Regions from separate parts of the Homo sapiens genome. Here all the other regions are linked to region 5. The links come from fine-mapping of genetic effects on gene expression. A gene starts in region 5. Each other region holds a variant in brackets. All regions are shown on one strand. Distances are between the middles of the regions. Region 1 overlaps GSTM2 (glutathione S-transferase mu 2). Region 2 holds the start of LOC124904258 (a long non-coding RNA gene). Region 3 holds the start of GSTM5 (glutathione S-transferase mu 5). Region 4 has its middle 27 kb from the start of AHCYL1. Region 5 holds the start of GSTM3 (glutathione S-transferase mu 3). Region 6 has its middle 15 kb from the start of AMPD2.

Evidence for each region. PIP is the estimated chance that this variant, and not a neighbour inherited with it, causes the effect.
Region 1: its variant is fine-mapped to the expression of GSTM3 in sun-exposed skin (GTEx, PIP above 0.99). The same link has a PIP of 0.9 or more in tibial nerve.
Region 2: its variant is fine-mapped to the expression of GSTM3 in left ventricle (GTEx, PIP above 0.99). The same link has a PIP of 0.9 or more in cerebellar hemisphere, cerebellum and sigmoid colon.
Region 3: its variant is fine-mapped to the expression of GSTM3 in subcutaneous fat (GTEx, PIP above 0.99). The same link has a PIP of 0.9 or more in sun-exposed skin, tibial nerve, transverse colon, unexposed skin and visceral fat.
Region 4: its variant is fine-mapped to the expression of GSTM3 in vagina (GTEx, PIP above 0.99).
Region 6: its variant is fine-mapped to the expression of GSTM3 in whole blood (INTERVAL, PIP above 0.99).

What each region holds. Positions count from the first base shown.
Region 1 is chr1:109,669,563-109,673,646 of GRCh38, reverse strand. It overlaps GSTM2 (glutathione S-transferase mu 2), which reads right to left. Exons shown (of 8, transcript NM_000848.4): 5 at 4,076-4,084; 6 at 2,265-2,360; 7 at 2,064-2,174. Among named protein-coding and RNA genes, the nearest start is that of GSTM2, 3.5 kb to the right of the region's middle. RefSeq lists an enhancer at 3,724-3,823. The variant G/A (reference allele first, on the strand shown) is at 1,899.
Region 2 is chr1:109,759,225-109,763,299 of GRCh38, reverse strand. It overlaps EPS8L3 (EPS8 signaling adaptor L3), which reads left to right. Exons shown (of 19, transcript NM_133181.4): 2 at 1,527-1,581; 3 at 1,741-1,805; 4 at 3,464-3,622; 5 at 3,913-4,062. The coding sequence starts at 1,551. It overlaps LOC124904258 (a long non-coding RNA gene), which reads right to left and starts at 3,435. Exons shown (of 2, transcript XR_007066303.1): 1 at 3,350-3,435. RefSeq lists an enhancer at 2,005-2,734. The variant C/G (reference allele first, on the strand shown) is at 1,991.
Region 3 is chr1:109,711,780-109,715,865 of GRCh38, reverse strand. It overlaps GSTM5 (glutathione S-transferase mu 5), which reads right to left and starts at 3,615. Exons shown (of 8, transcript NM_000851.4): 1 at 3,518-3,615; 2 at 3,173-3,248; 3 at 2,683-2,747; 4 at 2,301-2,382; 5 at 2,105-2,205; 6 at 824-919; 7 at 626-736. The coding sequence starts at 3,553. The variant T/C (reference allele first, on the strand shown) is at 2,413.
Region 4 is chr1:109,955,355-109,959,440 of GRCh38, reverse strand. No RefSeq gene overlaps it. Among named protein-coding and RNA genes, the nearest start is that of AHCYL1, 27 kb to the left of the region's middle. The variant AT/T (reference allele first, on the strand shown) is at 1,801.
Region 5 is chr1:109,738,999-109,743,084 of GRCh38, reverse strand. GSTM3 (glutathione S-transferase mu 3) reads left to right here and starts at 2,047. Exons shown (of 9, transcript NM_000849.5): 1 at 2,047-2,132; 2 at 2,574-2,845; 3 at 3,177-3,252; 4 at 3,592-3,656. The coding sequence starts at 2,798. RefSeq lists a silencer at 2,608-2,837.
Region 6 is chr1:109,633,040-109,637,125 of GRCh38, reverse strand. No RefSeq gene overlaps it. Among named protein-coding and RNA genes, the nearest start is that of AMPD2, 15 kb to the right of the region's middle. The variant T/C (reference allele first, on the strand shown) is at 1,900.

The sequences.
Region 1 (4,084 bases), 69 kb after region 5:
GCCTGGGTGACAGGCTTGACCCTGGCACATAACGGGCCATAGCTCTCAGCTCTCCTCCATCCCTCCCTTCCCACCACCTCTTACCTAACTCCAAGGCCACTCAGCCTGGACCAGAACCGCAGAACCAGAGCTGATGGGAACTAGCTGAGCAAGCAGATCTCTTGATGGGGAGTGGAAAAGGGAAACAGATTCAAGGCTCAGAAGCCTGTTGGACAAATGCCTCAAATCCCCAAATCTGTAGTAATGTAGGATTTGCTGCTCTCAAACAAGTTCAGCACACACTTCACAGGCTGCTCTGCCTGCAGGCCTCTCACTGCACTCATTTCCAGGATGGGGCTGTCATCTATGCATCTCCCACTGTGCCTCACACCCTGCCTCATGCAGAGGAGAAGGTCAGTGAACAGGAGTAAAATCAGCGTGCTACTCATCTCACAGGGGGAACACCTGGAACATTGGAGGGAAAAAAAGAGAGGAAGAGGCCAGGCGCGGTGGCTCACGCTTGTAATCCCAGCACTTAGGGAGGCTGAGGTGGGTGGATCACCTGAGGTCAGGAGTTTGAGACCAGCCTGGCCAACATAGCAAAACCCCATCTCTACTAAAAATACAAAAATTAGCTGGACGTGGTGGTACACACCTGTAATCCCAGCTACTCAAGAGGCTGAGGCAGGAGAATCACTTGAACCCAGGAGACAGAGGTTGCAGTGAGCCGAGATTGCTCCACTGCACTCCGGCCTGGGTGACAGAGCAAGACTCCGTCTCAAAAAAAAAAAAAAAAAAAGAGGTAGAGAAGGAAAGTGCTCCAGCACAGGGCATTTCAGCATAAGCTCCTTCAACAGGGGCACCCACATATGTACCTTAATCCAGCTCCAGCCACAGCCCTGGCTCTCAGGATTCCCCACATGGGGGTTCAATCATACAAAGTTTCTGGGTGTAGCTGTGAATACTGCCTGTGGGTTCAGTATTGAACATCAATGCTACTGTGTGTCAGTCCTACTATTGCCAGCTGCATCCGTGGTCCTGAAGTGCTCTGCCTCTTCCAAAGTGTCCTGGGCTATGAAACCCAGGCTGGACAAGGCCTGAGGCTTTTCTTTTGTCACAAAACGGAGAGCCCTGACTGCCAACCATAGATCCAGAGGCTCGCAGGGAGCCCAGCACAGCCTCCACTGGCTCTGGGACCCTGAGCAAAGGACTGACCCTCTCATTCTCAGTTTCTTTGTCTCTAAAATGGGGGAGATAATTCTACCACCCTGTAGGAATGTTGTAAATTTCAAATTCAACACAATAGGTATAATGTGCTGGGTACAGTTCGTGGCATGAAGCCAGCACTCAATAAATGCAAGTTATTCTTTTCTTCTTTTTTTTGTTTGAGATGGAGTTTCACTCTTGTTGCCCAGGCTGGGGTGCAATGGCACGATCTTGGCTCACCGCAACCTCCGCCTCCCAGGTTCAAGAGATTCTCCTGCCTCAGCCTCCCTAGTAGCTGGGATTATAGGCATGTGCCACCACGCCCAGCTAATTTTGTATTTTTAGTAGAGACAGGGGTCTCACCATGTTGGTCAGGCTGGTCTCGAACTCCCGACCTCAGGTGATCCACCCAACTCGGCCTCCCAAAATGCTGGGATTACAAGTGTGAGCCACCATGCCCGGCTCCTTTTTTTTTTTTTTTTTTTTTTCTTGAGATGGAGTCACACTCTGTCATACAGGCTGGAATGCAGTGGCACGATCTTGGCTCACTGCAACTTCCACCTCCCAGGTTCAAGTGATTCTCCTGCCTCAGCCTCCCAAGTAGCTGGGATTACAGGTGCTCGCCACCACGCCCAGCTAATTTTTGTATTTTTTTTTAGTAAAGATGGGGTTTTGCCATGTTGGGCAGGCAGGTATCAAACTCCTAACCACAG[G/A]TGATCTGCCTCCCTCAGCCTCCAAAGCGCTGAGATTACAGGCGTGAGCCACCGCACATGGCCAAAAATGTGAGTTATTCTTTGTGTAGCTCCAGGACTGGGAAAGCATCACAAAGGAGGGAAAGGAATAAGAGACATAAAGAGAAAGGAGGCTGGGGGCATCACCTCAAATCGGGAGATGAAGTCCTTCAGGTTTGGGAAGGCATCCAGGCAGCTGGGCTCAAATACTTGGTTTCTCTCAAGGACATCATAAGCGATGAAATCCACAAAGGTGATCTGGATAAGGCCAAGGATATGTGGGCTGAAACCTCCATAATATAGGAAGTATGACAAATCTGTGGTGTCCCCATCACACGCCCCCATTACCTTGTCCCCAAGAAACCATGGCTGCTTCCCCAGAAACTGTGAGTAGAGCTTCAGCATTTCAGGGAGTGCCTGCAGGTATTCTGGTTTCAGTTTCTCCTGAGGCAGAAAACAGCTGTCAACACCCTCAGACACAAGCTCCCTGCACAGATGCGGCCTCCCAGTTTTGTGCATGGCCCCAGCTGGCCGCGGGCAAGCAGTCATCTTCCCCACAGCTGGAACTGGGTCACTGTCCAGGCTTCAGCTGGATACATCAGCATTTATTAGACTCCAACTGGGTAGCTGGAGTCTTTCTGAGGTGATGGGATGGCAGAGCGGAATGTGACACTGTCCCTAAATCTGTCCCCACTGACCTCCCAACAACCTCTGGGTCAGCCCCAGGAGCACCTGAGCACCTGGTAGGCTCTGGACCAGATATGAGCAGAATCAAGGATGCAAAGAACTAAAGGAGCTCAGAGAAAGAAGTAGAAATTTCCTCCTAGTTGGGCAGCAGTAGAATACAATGGACATTGAGTGGTTTCTGGAAAGATGAGGAGATATTCAGAGGATAAGTGGAAGAAAGGAGGGGGAAAAAGAGCCTCTGGCTGCCCCTAAGCTGTCTGTTAGGAAAATTCGCTGATCTCAGTGTATGTCAAGAGAGCACTCGGAAGACACCAAAATTTCAGGTGCCATTACTCCTTTGTTTTGCACTTGTTTTCCTCATAGTTTGTGTATTCCTAAAGCAGGCAGATGATATAAACCACTGGGAGAGATGGCCCAAAGCACAGGTCATGGGTCAGAGATGGAAGGGATTCTGGAAGTAACCATTACTGTCTAGAGAGTGAATTCATACCCTGGGGAGTCAGGATTCTATAAGTAGATTGGTGGGGAATTGATTTAGAGGTTTTATTTGACACGACTTTGGGGTTTGAGGGTCACTCTGGTGGCAGTATAGGAAATAGCTTGAAGGATGAGTAGCACTAAAGAGTTCAAACAGAAAACAGGACCCGTGTATTTGGCAGGACCACAGTCTTGGCTCCTGATCAAAATGAGAGGTGAAGCTGGCTGGGCTTCTGGGTCAGGTGAGGACTTGGAGAACTTTTCTGCCTAGCCAAAGGATTGTAAATGCACAAATCAGCGCTCTGTGTCTAGCTAAAGGTTTGTAAACGCACCAATCAGCACTCTGTAAAAACAGACCAATCAGCACTCTGTAAAACGGACCAATCAGCACTCTGTAAAATGGACCAATCAGCTCTCTGTAAAATGGACCAATCTGCATGTGGGTGGGGCCAAATAAGGGATTTCCCCCCCCACCTCCGCCCTTCCCAAGCAGCAGTAGCAACCTGCTCAGGTTGTCTTCCAGGCTGTGGAAGTGTATTTTCTTTCACTCGTCACCATAAATCCTGCTGTTGCTCACTCTTTGGGTTTGAACTACCTTTATGAGCTATAACATTCACTATGAAGGTCTGCAGCTTCACTCCTGAAGCCAGCCAGACCATGAACCCACCAAGAGGAATAAACAACTCCAGACGCGCCACCTTTAAGAGCTGTAGCACTCACTGCGAAGGTCTGCGGCTTCACCCCTGAAGTCAGCAAGACCACAAACCCACCGGAAGGAAGAAACTGCGGACACATCTGAACATCTGAAGGAACAAACTCCGGACACACCATCTTTAAGAACTGTAACACTCACCGTGTAGGACCGCGGCTTCATTCTTAGAGTCAGCAAGACCAAGAACTCACCAGAAGGAATCAATTTTGGACACAAACTCTGCAGGGAAAGGGGAGACTGGGAGTAGGGAAGGGGAGACTGGGAGTGGGGTGGGGGGACTTACAAAATCTGG
Region 2 (4,075 bases), 20 kb before region 5:
AATGGGGGTTGGGGGAGGCTGGGGAAGGGGAACAGGCTTCTAGCCCCGCCTTACCCCTGGAGAGAAAAGGGGTCCTCCCAAACAAGGAAACCAGAGATCCAGCCGTCCCTTCCACATTCCCTTAATTGTTCACTGGCAGTTTATTTCCTTCCACACTGAGTCATCTTATCAGATCCTACGTCATTTTCACAACAGTCCTAATAAACAAGGGTATGGGTTGCTCTCTCACATGTTACCCGGGGTAGTCCAGTATTTCTGCACAACTGAGGTGTACCATGTAGACATGTGGATACCCACAAACCTCATTTGGATAACACATACCCTTGACCCGCACAGACTAACACCACCCCCACCCGGGACACACACACCACATTTAATTCCACTCCATTTCAACATGTATGTTCTCTAGACTCCCTCTGTGACTGCGCACAGCCCAGCGGCAGAGGCATGTTTATAAACCATTAAAACACGAAGCTTGCAATCGGACAGATCTGGGTTGCTCTCTATTAAACGTTCATTTGTGACCTCAGGCCTGTTACCGTCTTTGAGCCTCAGAGTCCTCATATGGTAAATGGGGACAATACCAGTACCTGCCTTGTGAGGTTGTTTTGAGGATTAGAGTGACTGAAGGTAACGCCGTTAGAACAGTGCTAGGCACGTGGCGCCAAGTAAGTACAAGTGGACGGCAGTGAGGAGAAACTGATAGGATGTTGGTAAGGGGCTCAGCACCAGGCTCACAGCACCGTGGTGGCTATTGTGACTATTGTTGCTGGAGATAAATGTACAAGGTCCAGTGCAGCATTAGGAGGGTACCCTGGGCAGGGTGGGGTTGGATGGTCCAGGAGGGCTTCACCAAGAGGGTGATCTTTGAGCTAGAATTTAAAGGGTTGGGGTCAGGAGGGGACCTGGGCAGAGGATACAGAGTACAAAAAGCAAAGAGCCAGGAGGCCTAGGGAGACACTTGGGGGAGGTCAGCTCACTGGCGAGTCCTGCAGTGCCACCATAAGTACACACACACATGCATGCAGTCTTCCCAGAGGGTCTACAGCTGAAGAGCCAGCATCAGCGTCCTCTCAGTTTGCAGAACTGAAACAGGGTCGAACAAGAGGGCCTCCTCTGGCGGGGTCGGCTACAGAACCCTCTGCTCATCCAGCATCTTTCATACCCAGGCCCAAGATAGGATCTGAACGCAGGTCCCTGTCCATCCAGGTTTCCTGGGCTCCTTGGCATGAGCTTTATCAGCCAAACCATGGGAGGCCTGGAGCCTTCCCTGAGGCCCAGCCATGCTGTGGCCTCCCTGACCCTCCCTTCCCTCAGCCCGGGGCCTCCAGGCCCAGCCAGGATGGAGGGCTCCTCAGTGGAGGACGCTGGCTGCAGATGGCTCCGGAAAGGGCCCCTGGAGCCAGGGGCTTTGGGTCTGGTCCCAGAGGCCCCCAGTCAGAGCAATAGCAACTGTCCTGCCCTGCTGTGCCTGGTACACCTTTCCCCAGCTCTGATGGCTGCCTCTGGTTCACTTTGGGTTCTAGGGAGCCGTCCTCAGCAGCGTCAACATGTCAAGGCCCAGCAGCAGAGCCATTTACTGTAAGCTCCTGGCAGGCCCCTCTCCCGTGCCCTCCCACTGAGCCCCCAGAATGTCCCATCCTCCACTCCCCCTTCCTCACACCAACTGCCCCCAGCAGTTGCCTGAGTCTCACCTCGTTCTTCTGCCCACCTCCCGCCCCTTGCTCTGTGCCCTTGTAGTGCACCGGAAGGAGTACTCCCAGAACCTCACCTCAGAGCCCACCCTCCTGCAGCACAGGGTGGAGGTGAGTACCTCTGCAGCCCCCGGGCAGTGTCCAACTAAACCCAAGTGTTCCCATGTGCCCACCGCCCTGCCAGAACATGGACACTTCACACAAGTCCCTGCCCCAGAAGCCAACAGCCTGTCCCAACCATGTCGCATGGACTCAGATCCAACAAGCCTGCCAGAGCATCTGCTCAGTGTCAGGGA[C/G]GGGGAGGGGTGGTCAGATTGAACAGAGCAGGCCTGGCTGGAGGTTGAGCGGGTGAGTGTCCTGTCCCCAGACAGGAAGAAGTAGCAGCAGGATGGGATAAGAAGCACCTACAACCACCCACCCACCTACCCTCCCCTGTCTCCCAACCCCCTGCTGCCCGAGTCCCCAGGGCACTGCTCCATTGCCCAAGACCTTGCATGGCTGGAGGCAGGAGTGTGTGGGATCTTTGGGATCTTTGGGCCCTGTGGGGGATTGAGAGGGCCACTGTTGGAGAGGGGAGGCACCTGGGCCCAAGCCTCCAGGGTGACTGTGAGCAGCTCCGAGGCTGCTCCAAGGCTAGAATGGAGTCTCTGGCTCTACCAGGGAGGATGATGCAGGCACTGCAAGATTTAGGTGCCTGAAGGGCTGTCGACACCAAGGTGAAGGCGAAGCACAGGCTACAAGGGCGTGGTGGGGAGAGCAGGCAGAGGGTCAGGCTGGAGCTCTGGGGTAGAAGCCATCCTGTCCTGGCCACCACTTGTTAGTGGCTCCAATGGAGAACAAGCAGGGAGGGAGCTGGGGCGATGGTCTGCAGGTCCCACAGGGCAGCAGGTCCCACAGGGCAGCAGAGGCAGAGCTCCCCTAGCCAGCCGAGGAGAGGCCAGGAGGACTCAGCTTCTCTGTAGGGTGGAGGCTGGGAAGAGGCTTCTTTTAGGCCCAGCAGGCAGAGCAAGAGGAGGATGGAGTTTGCTCATGATGCCAGAGTCCCCTGAATATGCTGGCAGTGCGAACACAGGGAGAAGAGCTGGGCCCTGGGCAGGGGGGTGGGGTCAAAGGGCAGGAGGCAGGCTGCATCTCCCTACCACAAGAAGCCTGGGTGGAAGGGGCCTTGTGAAGGTAATGTTTGGCTGGGAGAAGGGAGGGGGCTCCTAAAGGAGAGTGGATAACAGCAAAAAACTCCTGGATGGTCAGCCTAGCAGTAGGCAAGGACTTGAGCGGAGACTGAGATCACGATGGATATCTCCAGGCATGAACCAGGGAGAAGGAGACAGGAATGCTGGGTGAGTGAGGAGGAAGACTGGGCTGGGACTGAGTTCCCAAAAGGAACAAAGGAAGCCAGGGACAGAATCTGAGGGTCCTGTATCACCTCCAGAGGAGTTATTTGTTGGGTGGCTGGAGCCCACATCCTCCACCACCCAGCTGCCTCACCTGGCCTGGACTAGTAAAGGCCATGCCTGTCCTTCCTCCAGAGTCCTCAAACCCCTCCTGCAGCCCCTCAGACTCAGACTTGGAGGCCCTATCCCTGGCCCCAGTGCTTCGACACCGTCCCTCACATTGGCCCTGGAAAGTTGCTTTATCTGAAGCCTGGAACCTCCTACCTCAAGGGGGCCGAGGACACGTCTTCTTCCTCTTCTGCTTTTCTCTACCCAGCACGCCTGTGGTCCACCTCTCTGAGCTTTCTCCCAGTCCTAGGACTCCCCCTCTCCCTGCAGCACTTGATGACATGCAAGCAGGGGAGTCAGAGAGTCCAGGGGCCCGAGGATGCCTTGCAGAAGCTGTTCGAGATGGATGCACAGGGCCGGGTGTGGAGCCAAGACTTGATCCTGCAGGTCAGGGACGGCTGGCTGCAGCTGCTGGACATTGAGACCAAGGTCAGCCTTCCCAGCAAACCCAGTGATAGCCAGCCTGGGCTGTGGGGAAGCAAGCACTAGCTCTTGAACTCCACCCTCCATGCCCCAAAGGGCAGCCACTCTCCCCACATACAACACACACCCAAGCCTAGGAAGAGACAGGGGACAGAGGCTGGGGACAGAGGCACAAGAGTCAGGTAGATGACACCTCAGCCCTAGGCCACCAAAGGGCTAGGATGAGCTGGTCAGGAGCTCCCAGAAGCCACACCTAGCTCTGGTGGCCTCACAGTTGACCTCTCCACCTGGCCCAGGAGGAGCTGGACTCTTACCGCCTAGACAGCATCCAGGCCATGAATGTGGCGCTCAACACATGTTCCTACAACTCCATCCTGTCCATCACCGTGCAGGAGCCGGGCCTGCCAGGCACTAGCACTCTGCTCTTCCAGTGCCAGGAAGTGGGGGTGAGTGGTCGGG
Region 3 (4,086 bases), 27 kb after region 5:
AGCACTTCAACACACACTGCTTCAACAGGGGCACCCACATATGTACCCTAATCCAGCTCCAGCCACAGCTCCGGATCTCAGGATTTTCCACATGGGGGTCCGATCATGCAAAGCTTCTGGGGGTGGCTATGAATACTGCCTGCAGGTTTAGTACTCAACATCAATGCCACTGTGTGTCAGTCCTACTATTGCCAGCTGCATCCGTGGTCCTGAAGTGCTCTGCCTCTTTCAAAGTGTTCTGGGCTGTGAAACCCAGGCTGGATGAGGCCTGAGGCTTCTCCTTTTGTCACAAATGGGAGAGCCCTGACTGCCACCCATAGATCCAGAGGCTCACAGGGAGCCCAGCACAGCCTCCACTGGCTCTGGGACCCTGAGCAAAGGACTGACCCTCTCATTCTCAGTTTTCTTATCTCTAAAATGGGCAAGATAATTCTGTCACCCTGTAGGAATGTTGGAAATTTCAAATTCTACACGATAGGTATAATGTGCTGGGCATGATTCCTGGCATGAAGCCCGTACTCAATACATACGAGTTATTCTTTGTGTAGCTCCAGGACTGGGAAAGCATCTGAAAGGAGAGAAAGGAACAAGGGGCATCAAAGAGAAAGGAGGATGGGGGCATCACCTCAAAGCGGGAGATGAAGTCCTTCAAGTTTAGGAAGGCGTCCAAGCACTTGGGCTCAAATATACGCTTCATGTCAAGGACATCATAGGCAAGGAAATCCACAAAGGTGATCTGAAGAAGGCCAAGAATGTGTGGGCTGAAAACCCCGAAACACATGAAGTAAAACAGATCTCATTCCCCATATCACTCCTCCTTTACCTTGTCTCCTGCAAACCATGGCCGCTTCCCCAGAAACTCTGAGTAGAGCTTTAGCTTTTCAGGGAGTTCCTCCAAGTATTTTGGCTTCAGTTTCTCCTGAGGCAGAAAACAGCTGTCACCACCCTCAGACAAAAGCTCCCTGCACAGACGTGGCCTCCCCAGGGCTGTAGATGGCCCAGGCTGGCCACAGGCAAGCAGCCATCTTCCCCACAACTAAAACCGGGGCAGTGCCCAGGCTTCAATTGGATACATCAGCATTTATTAGACTCTGACTGGGTGCCAGACCCTATCTGAAGTGATCAGAATGAGATGCTCTTCCTGAATCTGTCCTCACTGGCCTCCCAATAGCCTCTGGGTCAGCCGCATGAGCGCCCGAGCACCTGGCAGCCTCTGGATCCAGACAGGGGCAGAATCAAGGATGCAAAGAACTAAAGGAGCTCAGGGAAAGAAGTAGAAAGTTCCTTCTAATGGGGTGACAGAAGAAAACAATGAACATTGACTAGTTTCCAGGGAGATGAGAAGTTCAAGTTGAAAGGAAGGAGGGAGAGGAATAAAGGCCCTCTGGCTGCCTCTGAGCTGTCTGTTATGAAAATGCGCAGATCCCGGTGCATGTCAATGACAGCACTTGGAAAACTTTGAGGAGAAGATGCAATTTGAGGGTGCCATTACATTCCTTGGTCTTGTACTTGAGTCTGTATATTCTAGGAGCAGGTAGGTGATATAAATCAACTGACAGAAATGACCCATGACAGAGGCCAGAGGCCAGAGGAGATGAAGGAGATTCTGAACACAAATTTTACCATCTAGGAATTGAATTTCCACCGTGGGATGCCTGGATCGTGTCCTAAGATTGGTGGGAATTGCCTCTGCTTTTGTTGACATGACATTGGAGTCGTGAGAATAACTGCTGATAGTATGGGAAAGCACTTGGAGGATGAGTGGTACCAAGGACTTAAGAAAAGACCAGTGCGTGCAGGAATGCAAGAGTCCTGGCCCCAAATCCAAACTCTGCCAGGTGCAGCTCACTGGGGAGACTCACAAACTCTGGGTGGTAGCAGATCATGACCAGTTGCATCCAGTTGTCCGTGGTCTGGTTCTCCAAAATGTCCACAAGAATCTTCAGAAGAGGAGAAGATTCGTGTGGACATTTTGGAGAACCAGGTTATAGACGTCTCCAGTCAGCTGGCCGGAGTCTGCTACAGACCTGACTTTGGAAGTCCCTCCCTGGTCTGGGCCAAAAGGCAGGGAAATGGGTGACTGGGAGTGGGGTGTGGGACTCACAAAATCTGGGTCATAGCACAGTCTGACCAGCTCCATGTGGTTATCCATAACCTGGTTCTCCAAAATGTCCACACGAATCTTCTCCTCTTCTGTCTCCCCACCTGCCACCCACAAAACACAGACTCAATCTCAGCATCACAGCCCAGCCAAGGAGGAGGTCACCTTCCCCCCGCACATTGCAGCCACCCACACTCACACAGGTTGTGCTTGCGGGCAATGTAGCGCAGGATGGCATTGCTCTGGGTGATCTTGTGAGCCCCATCAATCAAGTAGGGCAGCTGGATAGATGGGAAACCGGGGAAGCTCAG[T/C]TGGGCCACCAGGCTCCCCAGCATCCCCTTCCCATATGCAAGGGCAGAGAGGAGACCAGGGCCTGCTCATGGCAGGCCTGAGATAGAAATACTGTCACACTAATAAATGAGCTGGGACACAGAACATCATGCAAGGGCTGTGTAGACAGCCAAGAGTGAGAGGAATTGGGCAGAAGACTCCTGATCTTAACACCTCTAAGGTGGGGAGAGGAGATGCAGTCAGAGACACGTCGCACTTTCCCCCAAAACCGCCCCTTCCCCTGCACCTACATTGGGAAAGTCCAGGCCCAGCTTGAATTTTTCATTCAGCCACTGGCTTCTGTCATAGTCAGGAGCTGTGGTGGGGAAGAAGTGAAAACAAACCTCCCCAGAGCCCAGCCCTCCTTCCCGGGGACCCTCCCAAGGAGCCAGTGGCAAGATCCCTGAGACAGGTGGATCTAGAATCTGACCACTCAGTCCCACATCCCAGGGTTCAGGGAGAAAGAATCCCACTGAGGGCTCTGGACCCCACAACGGCTAAGGCTTCCAGGGTTTAGGGAAGCTCTGAGGGACACCCAACCCAATTAGACAGGGTGTCCAGCATCCCGCCCCAGCATTCTGCCTTGCAAGGCCAGAGGGCTCACTCACGGGAGCTCAGGGAAGGGACAGCCTGCAGCTCCAGCAGGGGAGGCCTGCAGAGGCAGCCACAGGTGGCCACCATGGGTTGCTTGGTGCCAACTCAGCGTGAGTGGGCAGGGCCCGGACACGAGGGTGCCATTACCGTCCCCCAGCGTGTACTTCTTTTCCACATAGCTTGAGTCTGTGTATTCCAGGAGCAAGCGGATGGCGTGGGCCAGCTGGGAGAGATGGCCCGCGGCTCGGGTCAGAGATGGAGGGTCCCTGACTTGGTGACTTTCTCTGCACCAGGCCAGCCCCTAGTCTATACTGCACGTACCCGTCGCCTCCTCTACCCGCCCCCACCCCCAAACACACACACAGCGTCATGCACAGGCCCTTCTGAGGCGGGCAGCCCTGAAGAGGAACGGTCCCTAGAGCCAGTCCTGCAGCTACTCCACACATCCCCGCCTCCGCCCCCTGTCCCACCCACCAGAGGACCCTCGCTTACCCCACGGATGTCCCAGTACCCCAGAGTCATGGGCATGGTGCTGGTTGGTGCGGATTCTGCAGACAGGCATCAGCGGAGCGGGGCTCAGACTTTGAGAGGCCCAGGAGGGGACAGGCGGGGCCTTGCTGCGACCCCGCCCCTCGGCCCGCCACAACCCCGAAACACGCCATTCTGTAGGCCCCCGAGCGAGCGCCCGGGGCTGGAATCAATAAGCCCCCTCCCGCCTCCCAGTCCCCAGGGTTCCGGGAGCGAGGTCAGGGCGCCCAGAAGCCCAAAGCGGGGCTCGGCCTCGCCAGCTTCCCCAACCCGCCCTGAGGCTCCATGAGTCCATCCAGCCCTTGCTAGGTCCACAGCGACTTGGCTGTGCGCTTGAGACACCAGCCAGATCCTAACGGAGCAAAGCTCTTCTCCCTTCTCCTCCCTGCCCGCAGAATCCCTCAGCCTTCTCTCCGCTGCCGAGTTCCCAAGGGCTCTGGGAGACTCCGGCTGCAGGGGTCAGACTAAAAAGTGGTGGTCCCAACCTGGGAATTTAATTCAGCCCCTGTCACTGTAAGAGCAGGACTTCCTCT
Region 4 (4,086 bases), 220 kb before region 5:
CACCATGACAATGACTAGAGGTCCCCCTCACTCCGTTCCACACCCAAACTATCTCCTCCAAAGCTACCCAAATTCTAATTTTTTTTTTTTTTTTTGACAGAGTCTCCTGTTGCCTAGGCTGGTGTGCAGTGGCACCATCTCGGCTCACTGCAACCTTTGCCTCCCAGGTACAAGCGATTCTCCTGCCTTAGCCTCCCGAGTAGCTGGGACTACCACCACGCCCTGCTAATTTTTTTTGTATTTTTAGTAGAGACGGAGTCTCACCATGTTGGCTAGGGTGGTCTCCAACTCCTGACCTCAAGTGATCCACCTGCCTCAGTCTCCCAAAGTGCTGGGATTACAGGCATGAGCCACCGCACACAACCCTAAATTCTAAATTTAACGGCTCTCTTTGCTCTGTATTCCTCCTACACCTCTTAATAACGATAAGTGTAAATAGTAATAATAGCCAAGCACAGCTATAGCCTACTACATGCCCATGCCTGTGGTGGACACCTCCAAACATTATCTCCAATCCTATTCCCAGTTTACAGTGCAGGAAACTGAAGCTCAGATAAGATAAGTGACTTGCCCAAAGTAAGTGGAAGAGCTGGAATTAGAACTCAGGCCTTCTCTCTCCAAAGCATATGGGCTTTCTACTTAACCACATTTTCTCCTTTGGAAAGAGAAGTCTGTTTTTCTGGATGCAAAGACCAGATACTCTAGCTTCCCCTTAACAACTTTCAGAGCTTTTCTAATTGCTTGCCTCTGTAACTGTAATTCATTCATTTATTCACCCCACAAATGTTTATAGTGTATATCAGGTGCTAGGGGTATAAAAATGATTAAGGCAGTCATCTTCAGAGTTCACACTTTGATGGGGAAGACAGACACATAAATGGGCAAGTGAGGAAGTCAGTGATTAGGTAAAAGGGCACAGTGGGACCCCAGAGTCCAGGTGGGGTTGGAGGAAGAAATGATGACATCAGAAGAAGCTTTCAAAGGACTTGGGTTAATTCATTGACCTACTCTTTATTTCATTCATTTCAGAAATGTGTTTTAAGCAACTATTCTGTTTCAGGCTCTAGGCTAAGCCCTGGAATTAAATGTAGGCATGGCTTGCTTCCGTCTGGCCAGGAGGGATGGACTATAAATAATTAAATGACATTAAAATTGTCTTGGGGTTATGCCAGAAGGATGTACAAGTTAAATCAATGGGGGGGGGAGGGGGTTGGGTGCACAAATAAATGGTTAATTCTCTAGGGCAAGTGTTGTTTCGAAGGTCCAATTTCTTTCAAACATGTTTTTTCTTTTTCCTATTCATTCCTGTCTTACTGTTTGTTTTTGTTTTTGTTTTTGTTTTTTTGCATTTTAAATACCTTTGAGGCTATCCCACAGACCATGCCAAGTAAAAATAGCACATCTAAAACTACATTTATATTTTACAACATTCTCCAGGGAAAGAAGCTTTAATTCAAACAACAATACATCGGGACTGGGCGATGTCTCCACAACTAGCAACATCTTGGTGAAATGAAGGAGATGAAACTTTGGCCATAGTATTACAAAATGAAATATTAATTATGTTTTAACTCTGTTATTTGACCACTATTGTCTTCTATAGAGTGGATAATAGTGCAGGACAGAGTCCAGCTCTACAATTTTGTGACTTTCCTCCCATAAATCATTTCTGAGACCTAGTAAACTTCAGACCCATTAGGTGAAAGCATGTTCAATAAGAACTCTTCAAAAATAAGTATATTTAATATGTGATAAAGGTGGCCTTTTACATCAGGGACAATGTGTAGCCTCTTGGAAAAA[AT/T]AAAATTATATCTATAATATATGCTTTTATAGCAAAATAAAGTCCAGATGGATCAGACATATTTAAATTTTGACAAATGAAATTCCAGAAGCACAAGAAGAAAATATAAAAGTTTTTTTGGTTTTGTTTGCTTGTTTGTTTTTTCATAATCTCAGGGGCAGAAAAGGCTGAAGCCATAACATAAAGAATTGATAAATTCAGTCAGATAAAAATCAAATATTTCTGCATGGTCAAAAAGAATCACATAAATGATTAAAGTCAAATAACAAACTTGGGGGGGTGAGTGAGGATATCTAAAAATTATAATACAGCAAAACAATAATTATACATATTATTATAAGTATATATTATTATATTTGTATCTATATCTATAACTATTATTCTCTCCAGAATTGCTCACATCTACCTGCCTCTCCAGGGCCTCAGTGGCTTGCTCCATAGGGTGCCCTAAACACTGCCCTCTCTGCCTTCTTCCCAGCAACACTGCCTGTCTCATCTCCCCCCAGGATGAAGGCTGGGCAAGGGCCACAGTTGCACAGATACCCAAATCTGGAAGATATGATGCTCTCCTCCTTTGGTCTCAGGTAGGACATAGGACCTGGCTTTCCCACCATCTGTGCAGGTGAGGCAACCCAGAAGTGCAGGATAGTTAATGCCCTGTGGCAAAAAAGGATCTATGAGAGGCTGCAGATAGGAGGACAGATAAAATCCTCTTGTTCCCATTCCCACCATCCTTCACTTCTGACAACTGGGCAACTTAACTGAGCAACTGTCTGTATCCTCCTGAAGCTATGGTCAGCCTGATAATGCACCATGTTGTATTTGCTTTCTCTCCTTTTTGTCCTCCCTTCCATTTTTACCTTCGTGCATGCTGGTCTGGGCTTGCACTCCCTCAGTAAAACATTACCATGTGAGCTTTGCTTCAGGTTCTGTTTCATAGGGAATCTGAGCCAAGACCATATATAAAGAACTATTATAAAACAATGTGAAAAAGACCAACAACCCAATAGAAAAGCAGGCAGATCTAAATAGTTTACAAAAAAGCAACTATAAAAGCAAATAATAATGTAAATGACTCTTAAAAAACGTGAAGAGATGTTCAATCTCGCTCACAACGTGAAACACAAAATAAAATTATAGTGATATTTACTTTTTTACCTATCAAATTGAATATTTTGTAACATGCTGTGTCAGCAAGGGATGGAAAAATAGACACTCTCATTGCTGGTGGAAATATACATTGCTATAACTTCTACGGAGGATAATTTAACAATATCTTTAAAAATAGAAAAAAAAATACACATACTTTTTAGTCCAGCAATTTTATGCTCATTTTTGTTTGTAAAAAGATTGGAGATAATCTAGTGACCATTGACTAGAGACTGGGTCTGCAAATTATGGTACAGCCATAAATGGACACTTTTTAAAAAGAAAGAGGGTTTTTTAAAATGGACTGATTTGTAAAGACCTGCAATTTATATTAAGTAAAAATATGTCTAGAAATATACATAGTAAACTGGTAACAGTGGTTGCTTCTAAGGTTGGGCACTTACTTAAAATCTTTTGTACCTTTGGAATTTTGTACCATGTGTATTATCTATTTTTTCCTAATCAACTTTATAGAGGAATAATTTATGTATAGTTAAACCACATCCATTTAAAATTTACAATGCAATGACTTTTGAAAATTATATACTTGTGAGGCCGGGCGCAGTGGCTCACGCCTATAATCCCAGCACTTTAGGAGGCTGAGGTGGGCGGATCTCGAGGTCAGGAGATTGAGACCACCCTGGCCAACATGGTGAAACTCCGACTCTACTAAAAATACAAAAATTAGCCAGGCACGGTGGCGTGTGCCTGTAATCCCAGCTACTCAGGAGGCTGAGGCAGGAGAATCACTTGAACCAGGGAGCTGGAGGTTGCAGTGAGCCGAGATCGCACCACAGCAGTCCAACCTGGCGACAGAGTGAGACTCTGTCTCAAAAAAAAGAAAGAAAGAAAGAAAGAAAGAAAGAAAATTATACACTTGTAAAACCAGCTCCACAATCAAGACACAGAACATGAACATTTCACCAAAAGATGCCTCATGCCCTTTGCCATCCAGCTGTCTCTCTTCCCTGGCCCCAGGTAACCACTGATCTGCTTTCTGTCATTAGAGATTAGTTTGCATTTTACATCAATGGAATCACACAGCATATACTCTTTTGTATCTGACTTCTGCACTCTGCATAATGATTTCGAGATTCATTAGTGTCGTTATGTGTATCAGTAGTTCATTCCTGAAT
Region 5 (4,086 bases):
GGATGAAACTGGAAACCATCATTCTCAGCAAACTATCGCAAGGACAAAAAACCAAACACCGCATGTTCTCACTCATAGGTGGGAACTGAACAATGAGAACACATGGACACAGGAAGGGGAACATCACACTCCAGGGACTGTTGTGGGGTGGGGGGAGGGGGGAGGGATAGCATTAGGAGATATACCTAGTGTTAAATGAGGAGTTAATGGGTGCAGCACACCAACATGGCACATGTATACATATGTAACAAACCTGCACATTGTGCACATATACCCTGAAACTTAAAGTGTAATAATAATAAAATTTAAAAAAAAGAAAGTAATGCAAAAACTGCAAAAAAAAAAAAAGAAAAAGAAAAGAAAATGGGCATAACACCTACTTCCTAAAGTTGTTGTGAAGCTTAAATTGGAATAAATTAGCTAACATACGTAAACACTTAGATATTGCCTGGCATATGATAGGTGCTCAATAAATGTTAATCTTATACCTCAGGTGAATTTGTGACTGGCCTTTTGCTTTCTTGGGAGGAGAGACACAGGCATTATAAATTTCACCTGTCCATGTGGTTTGTACTCTTCCTTTCTTCTGTTTAGCAAAATGCCCTTTTAAAAAGTCCCAACCTTGCTTCAGTTGAACTGATGGGCAAATGTGATTTCCCACACCTGAGCTAGGGGATCTAGGCTCTCAGACTGCCCTGAGAGCTGTGCTGCAGAGGCCTGGCCAGAACCCTCAGAGCAGCTCCGGACTCCTTCCTCTGTCACTCCTCCACATTCAACTAGAATCCTATGTCTCCCGAGTTGACCCTGTTGCAAATCTGTGCCCCTTTTCATTTGCATGGGCCCTGCCGAAATTCAGAAGCTTAGTTCTTCCCATGACTATAGGGGCCTCGGGCAGGTCTCTTGCTCTGTCAAGGTCAAAACCCCTACTTTCCTAAATTCAACCATTGATTCTCCATCTTCATCTTACTTGATCAGCCACACTTGACATAGTTGATCACTTCTCCCTTTAAACATCTTCACATGGCTTCTGGGACCTTTTGTTTTCCTCCTACCTCCCTGGCCACTCCTTTTCAGACTCCTTTGCTGGTTTGCTCTCATTTTTCCCTAACCTTTACATGTTGATATGCCAGAGCACCTCAAACCCTTAGACCTCATCTCTGCTACTCGTGCTCCCATGGTGATCTCATCTAGTCTCTGGTTTCAAACACAGAGTGATCACTCCTGTACTTGCTGTTTCCCTTTTCCTGGAGTTCTCTCTGCCTCCTGCAGGTAGGAAGTGATTCGAGATAAGAGAGGGAGAGAACTCTTCTGGCCAGGATAGAGGGTGATTCTGAGAAGGCTTCAAGGAAGAAGTGAGCATTTGAGCACGGCTACTTGAGGAAGGCTAGGCCATGGACATTAGGGTGCAGGCAGGAGCAGAGCAAACATGCTTGTAAAAGGAACAGCAATTATTCTGTTTTATATTTATATCAGCCCATGGTGGCCCCCACAGCAGAGTGGCTTGATCTCTCACCTCCTTCAGGTCTTTGTTTAAAGATTAACTTCTCCATGAGGCCTTCTATGAACATAACCTTTAAAAACATAAATCCCCTTCCTACTGGGACTCCCCCAGTTCCCACCCTGAGACCCCCTATCTCTCTTCTCGATTTTATTTCTCTCCATAGGATGTGTATCACCACCTGACTTACTAGCTATTTACTATATATTAGTTTATTTCTTCCCCATTAGAATGTAAACTTCCTGAGGGCAGGGATTTTGTCTGTTGAGTTCAGTTCTGTATCCCCAGCACCTAAAACAGTGCCTGTCCATAACAGGCATGTTAAACATTGTTGGACAGATGAATGAGTGAATGAAAAATGGTAGTACCTTTCCTCCTCCAGTCCATCCTACACAAAGAGGCAAGATTAATTTCCCTAAATGCGTGAGCATTAGGAAGTGGGAGGGATTGGAGGAGGAAATTATAATAAGGAATCCATAAATTACTTAAGCCCATAAAACAAAGGTAGGAAACATTCAAGATAAGAGACCTCTTCTGGCCAGGATAGAGGTTGGTTCTGAGAAGGCTTCAAGGAATAGGCAGACATTTCAGCAAGGCTGCTGAGGAAGGATAGGCTGTGGAAATTAGGATGCAGGTAGGAGGATCACAGAGCAAACACTCCAAGGTGGGAAATGCAAGTGTGTGTAGAAGGAACAGCAAGTATTGTTGGGTTGGGCTGGCTTATGAAGTTGTGACGGGCTGAGGGAGAGACAGGACTGGAAAAGCACGTTGGGGTCAGGTTGCAGAGGTCCTTGACTGACAGAGAGGGGAGCTTGGTCTGTGGGGAATCTTCTGCTCTGTGTGGTCAGAGGCTGGTCTGACTCTCCGGCCTTGCCCCAGTCTTCCTATCCTTCATCCAGCCCCGGCTGGCTCGGTAAAAACGGCGCGAATCTCGCTCTCCCTGGGTAACTAGGGTCCCCACTGCCTGGCTAGTGGTGCTTTTCGCGTCTTCACTGGCACCATTAATGAATGAAGTCTGGCTCCCACCCGCGGGGAAGGGAGGAGCCTCAACCTCGGGTCCTTTGCTCTCCTGCAGCACTCCTGCCCGGGTCCCGCCTCGGGGTCGCCAGGCCCTGAACCCCAACGCCGGCATTAGTCGCGCCTGCGCACGGCCCTGTGGAGCCGCGGAGGCAAGGGACGGAGAACGGGGCGGAGGCGGAGTCAGGGCGCCCGCGCGTGGGCCCCGCCCCCTTATGTCGGGTATAAAGCCCCTCCCGCTCACAGTTTCCCTAGTCCTCGAAGGCTCGGAAGCCCGTCACCATGTCGTGCGAGTCGTCTATGGTTCTCGGGTACTGGGATATTCGTGGGGTGAGTGCCGTCTCAACGGTAGAGCCGCTCGGTCAAAGAGACTGACGCGGAGAGGGCGGGTCTCTGGGTCCGCGATCTCCAGCAGGAGCAGCTCTACGCGGGAGCCTTTTCGAGCTGCCGAGCCACGGATGTCGACCCCTGCCCAGCCTCTGGGATCGCGGGCCCTGTGGGGAGGGGCGGAGGAGACCACGCCGGAGCCGGGCCTAGGGGCCGCTTAACCACCGCCCCGGCAGGACGCAGGGACTCGGCAGCCCCGGGCCGGGGAACGTTAGCGGGCGGGGGTTGGGAATGGGTGGGAGCTGCGCAGTCGCTGAACCGCTGTCTTCCCCAGCTGGCGCACGCCATCCGCCTGCTCCTGGAGTTCACGGATACCTCTTATGAGGAGAAACGGTACACGTGCGGGGAAGGTAATGCCGCTCCGCGTGCCCGTGCAGCCAAGCTGGCCCTCCACCTGCCCTGGTCTTCTTACGCCCAGAGGGTGGTGGCGTCGCGCCAAGGCCGGGTGGGACGTTTGCCCCAATCTGGGTGAATAGAGACACATCCTTTATCTGGAACTGGGGGTTCTCTTTTTAACATAGCCCAAACCCGTCTTAATGCTTAACCAAATAGGGCTCAGAGGCTCAATGGTTATGCTTTTGGGGCCTGGGAATTTGAGGTATTGGGACCAAGTCATTTCTTTAGATCTTTTGCTCTTGTCAGGTGGGGTATTAAGGAGGTTGGGTCCCACTTAATTCCGTCTCTTACAGCTCCTGACTATGATCGAAGCCAATGGCTGGATGTGAAATTCAAGCTAGACCTGGACTTTCCTAATGTAAGTGGCTTTAGTAGAGGTGGCGGGCAGAAGGGAAAGCCTTCAAGTATATCCATCCTTGCCTCTCTCCTGCCTGGTACAGAAGGATGCAAAATAGGGGATCTTAACCCGGATAGAATAAATAGAATTCAGGGGTCCTTGAACTGGATGGATATGTATTTTCATTCCCATTAACCACTAGCAAAAGTTATTTCCTTTTATTGTGAAGAGAGACAATAAGTGACATTGGTTATTAGCCATGTCTGTCACTTTGTCACTAGTAGAAATCAGGTATTTTCTTTTTTGTGTGTTTCTTGTTCTTTTGTTTTGAGACAGTGTCTCACTCTGTCGCTCAGGCTGGAGTGCAGTGGCGCAATCACAGCTCACTGCAGCCTCAACCTCCCAGGCTCAAGCAGTCCTCCCACCTCAGCCTCCCAAGGAGCTGGGACTA
Region 6 (4,086 bases), 110 kb after region 5:
ATTTGATAGATCAGAGAACTAAAGCTCAGAGTTCCTAGAAATTTTCAGGATCTTATGGCTAATAAGTGACAGCTGTGCCGTGGGATAGAGCCCGGGGATCACAAACCCAGTACCTCTCTGGCAGTGTATGGACTGGGATGGGTATAAGGTAACCGGGAGGGGTCAGGCTAATAGCCGCCTCAGAGCATTCACATTCTCGATCTCATATCAGGCTGTGCCAGCCAATCACAATCCTGTGGCCACCTCTGCCACCTCTGTCTTAACTACTGGTCTTAGCAGCCTCCCCACAAAAGCTCCTCTCCACCCACACTGCCACCAGCCAGGTCCTTGTCAATCACACCCGGGATGTGGCAGGAGCCTCCTCCATGACCCTTCTGCCTCTAGACTCACCCGCACTGATCCTTCTGCTCATCAGAGCCTGACCCTGTCCCTTCCCTGAGCACCCCACCCCTAGAGGGACCCCCTCAACCAGACACGTACCCCAGGGACCATGATAGAGTAGGAGGAACAAAGACTTTGCAGCCTGACAGTTCTGGGGTCAAATCCCAGCTCTGGCACTCATTAGCTGAGTCATCCTGGATAAGTTACATAACCTCCCGAACCTCATTCTCCCTGTTGACGCGAGGGAATATGGTGATAGATATCATGCAGAGTTCTAGGAGCTGGAAGTACATTCACACTTACAAAGAGTTCAGCCCAATGCCAGGTGCTCATAGGTATTTTACCCCACCATGGCAAATGCGTAGTAGACACACCAGCATACCCCAGCAGTAGCTTGGGACCCTGGTGGGAATGGATTGGTAGCCACTCCCCTTTGCATATCTCCTCCAGGCCTGGGAAGTCAGGGAGGAGGGCTGACTTGCCCAGCTAATAAACAGAACACTCAGGTTTAAACCCAGGTCAGTCTCTCATCTGCAAAGGGGAGACAGAAATTCCAGCTGTGCATATCTGTTGCACAGATTCAGAGAAGATGCCAGTGGCAGCAGTAGCTGCTCCAAATCTGCCCAGACTATTTAGGGAGGCAGGAGAGTTGAAGGTGACGGCAAGACCAAAATCTGAGCCAACCCCCCTGGCCCAGAGTGGGACTGCGGGGCTGAGCCATTTTAAGTAAGTCCTTTATAGACCCTGCATCTGATTCTTGGAGGCCCCACACTCACTTGCATTTAAAATGCACCCACACCCCCTCATTAAATATAACTGCTTTGCTTTAAAGGGGTTTTTATAAATTTGCTTTTGAAATTACTTGACTATGAGTAACTCATTTAATTTACTATTGGCTATGCTTTCTCTTTAATCATATTGCATATTCTGGAACTCTTGTCAAAAATCCAACTTACAAATTGTTTTCAAATATAATGGCATGTGACTTAACAAATATTGAAGTTGACATGCTACTTTCTGAAGGCATTTCATTAAACATTTGTCAATTTCAACTTTTTTTTTTTTCCATATTTTGCAGCCCTCAGAGGTTTTCTTTCAGCTCTCCCATGTTGCCAGGGGGTGGGGGTGACATTGAGGGTCTGCCGGGAGAAGACAGGTATGCGCACAAAAGCAAGGCACTTAGATCGCCCCCATTTCTAGACTTGCAGGCTGCCTGCTTCAGGCCCAGCTGCGGAAACCACCCACCCCAGGTTGCCCAGGGCATCCTAATTTGGGCAGTTTCACTCTCATTTTGAAAATATAGTGATTTCTCAAACATTGGATTAAACCTGAGTTAAGGCTTAAGCCTTTATTGGAATTTCATATGAATACATTCATAAGTGAGGCAATACTTTGATAGGGTAAATGTTCTGATGTAGGGTTTAGAAATCAGGATTATTGTCACCCTAACCAAACACCCTTACCCATCCTCTACCGCAGCCTGGGGGCCCAGATAGCTCCCCACTTGCTCCCCTCCAC[T/C]CCCCCAGGAGTGGACACGGAGAGGGGACCCCGTGCAGGGCATGTGAGATGTGGCCTGGCACACAGCCCTCATACTTCCCAGTCTGAGAGCTTTAGGGACAGATGAGGGACAGTCCCCCAGGGTCGACTTCACTCAGGACAGGTCCCAAACCTTGGAAGGAGACAGGTTGGGTTGCCTATTTTATTTACTCCCTCTGCCACCCACCCTCCTTCCCCCTCACCCCCCCATTCCATGTGAGATCTGGCCCCTGACCAGGAAGAAGATGCGGGCACCTTCACACACGCAGGCACACACAGCAGGTCGAGAGGAAGGGCAGGGGGTGGGGCTCCAAAAGAGGAGAGGAGGTGGCGGGCTGGCATGGAAGGTGCAGGCAAGGTCGAGGGCAAGGAAATGACTTTTTATTTCTGCTCACATACTTTGATTCATTTCTATCAAGAACAGTAAAAAAAATTCTACCTTGGACCTGGTGATTTCACTCAGGGCATCTAGACTAAGGGAATAATCTGGAGAGATTTAGGCAAAGATAATAATAGCTAAGATTTACTGAGTTCTTGCTTGGTGCTTTATATCCAGTGGCTGAATGAATTCAAAATCAACCCGTGAGAAAAGTGCTATTATTATCCCCATGAAATGGGTGAGGACCTGGAGGCACAGCGAGGGGAAGTAACTTGCCTAAGGTCACACAGCCTGAAAGTGGTGGAAACAGAAGTCAAACCCAGAGTGCACACTGTTGGTCACATTAGGACACAGTCATTCTTAACAGAGGAGAGCTGTAATCATAAACCATGGGAGGCTCACCGGGGGTGGTGCACAGTAGTTCACATTCATATTTGCAGAGTATTTTGATGACATGTGGAAAGACGTATGTTAAAATACTTTTTAAAATAGGCCGGGGTCAGGCACGGTGGCTCACACCTGTAATCCCAGCACTTTGGGAGGCTGACGTGGATCACCTGAGGTCAGGAGTTCGAGACCAGCCTGACCAACATGGTGAAACCCCATCTCTACTAAAAATACAAAAAATTAGCCAGGTGTGGTGTCACGCAACTGTAATTCCAGCTACTTGGGAAGCTGAGGCAGAAGAATCACTTGAACCCAGGAGGCAAAAGTTACAGTGAGCCAAGATTGCACCACTGCACTCCAGCCTGGGCGACAGAGTGAGACTCCATCTCAAAAATAATAATAATAATAAAAAATTTTAAAAAGCCTAAATCATTCTTGTGATCTCAACTTAAAAATAGCATTTTAAAAAGAACTGAAAAGAATACAGAAATATGCACAGATATGCATTAAAATATCTACATATATCTCAGGCATGCAGCAAATATTTGGTGAAACTGGTAGATTATGAGTGGGCTTTTATTTCTTCCTATTTTTCTATATTTTCCAAATTTTTTTTAATGAAAATGATTTTCTTTTCAAATAGGAAGAAGTATTAAGGCCTTTTAAGATTATTTTCTCTTGATAAATATTTGAAAGAGAAATTTCTGAGAAACTAAGAAACCAGAGGCAAGTTGTTTAAAAAATAAATTGTGGGTTGGGTGCGGTGGCTCACGCCTGTAATCCCAGCACTTTGAACCCAGGAGTTCAGGATCAGCCTGCACAGCATGGTGAAACCCCGTCTACAGGTGGCACGTGCCTGTAGTCCCAGCTACTCATGAGGCTGGGGTGGGAGGATCACTTGAGCCCAGGAGGTCACTGCAGCCTGGACAATAGAGCAAGACCTCGTTTCAAAAATAAACCGTGAAGAGGCTGCTAAGGAACTTTAAATTAGTAATATTCTTAGAGCTAAGCCTCAACACACACTAAGAAAAACAGGAGACAAGAAAGTGAACTGAAGGATTCTATTAAATGACAAATTCAACAAGTAAATATGGAGTCCTAAGTGCTGGCAGACAGGACAGGCAGTTCTTGCCTCCAAAAGACCTTCTAGAAAAATCTTTTAATCCTGCTTCCTTGTTAAAACAAAGACAAGACACAGCTCACTTGTGTTATTAAATTATTCACCTACTTGAAAAGTGAGTTCCCCTCACCCTTCTAAGGGGGATCCTTGGGCAGCCGAGGCCCAGCATGGGTGAAGGAGCCCTGGACTCACCACCTCCCACCCTCATCGGGCTCCAACGTTCAATTCTGTGACATGTAAGTGGCCAGGATGAATTGGCAAGGGGTGTCTTCTGAACTGAAGG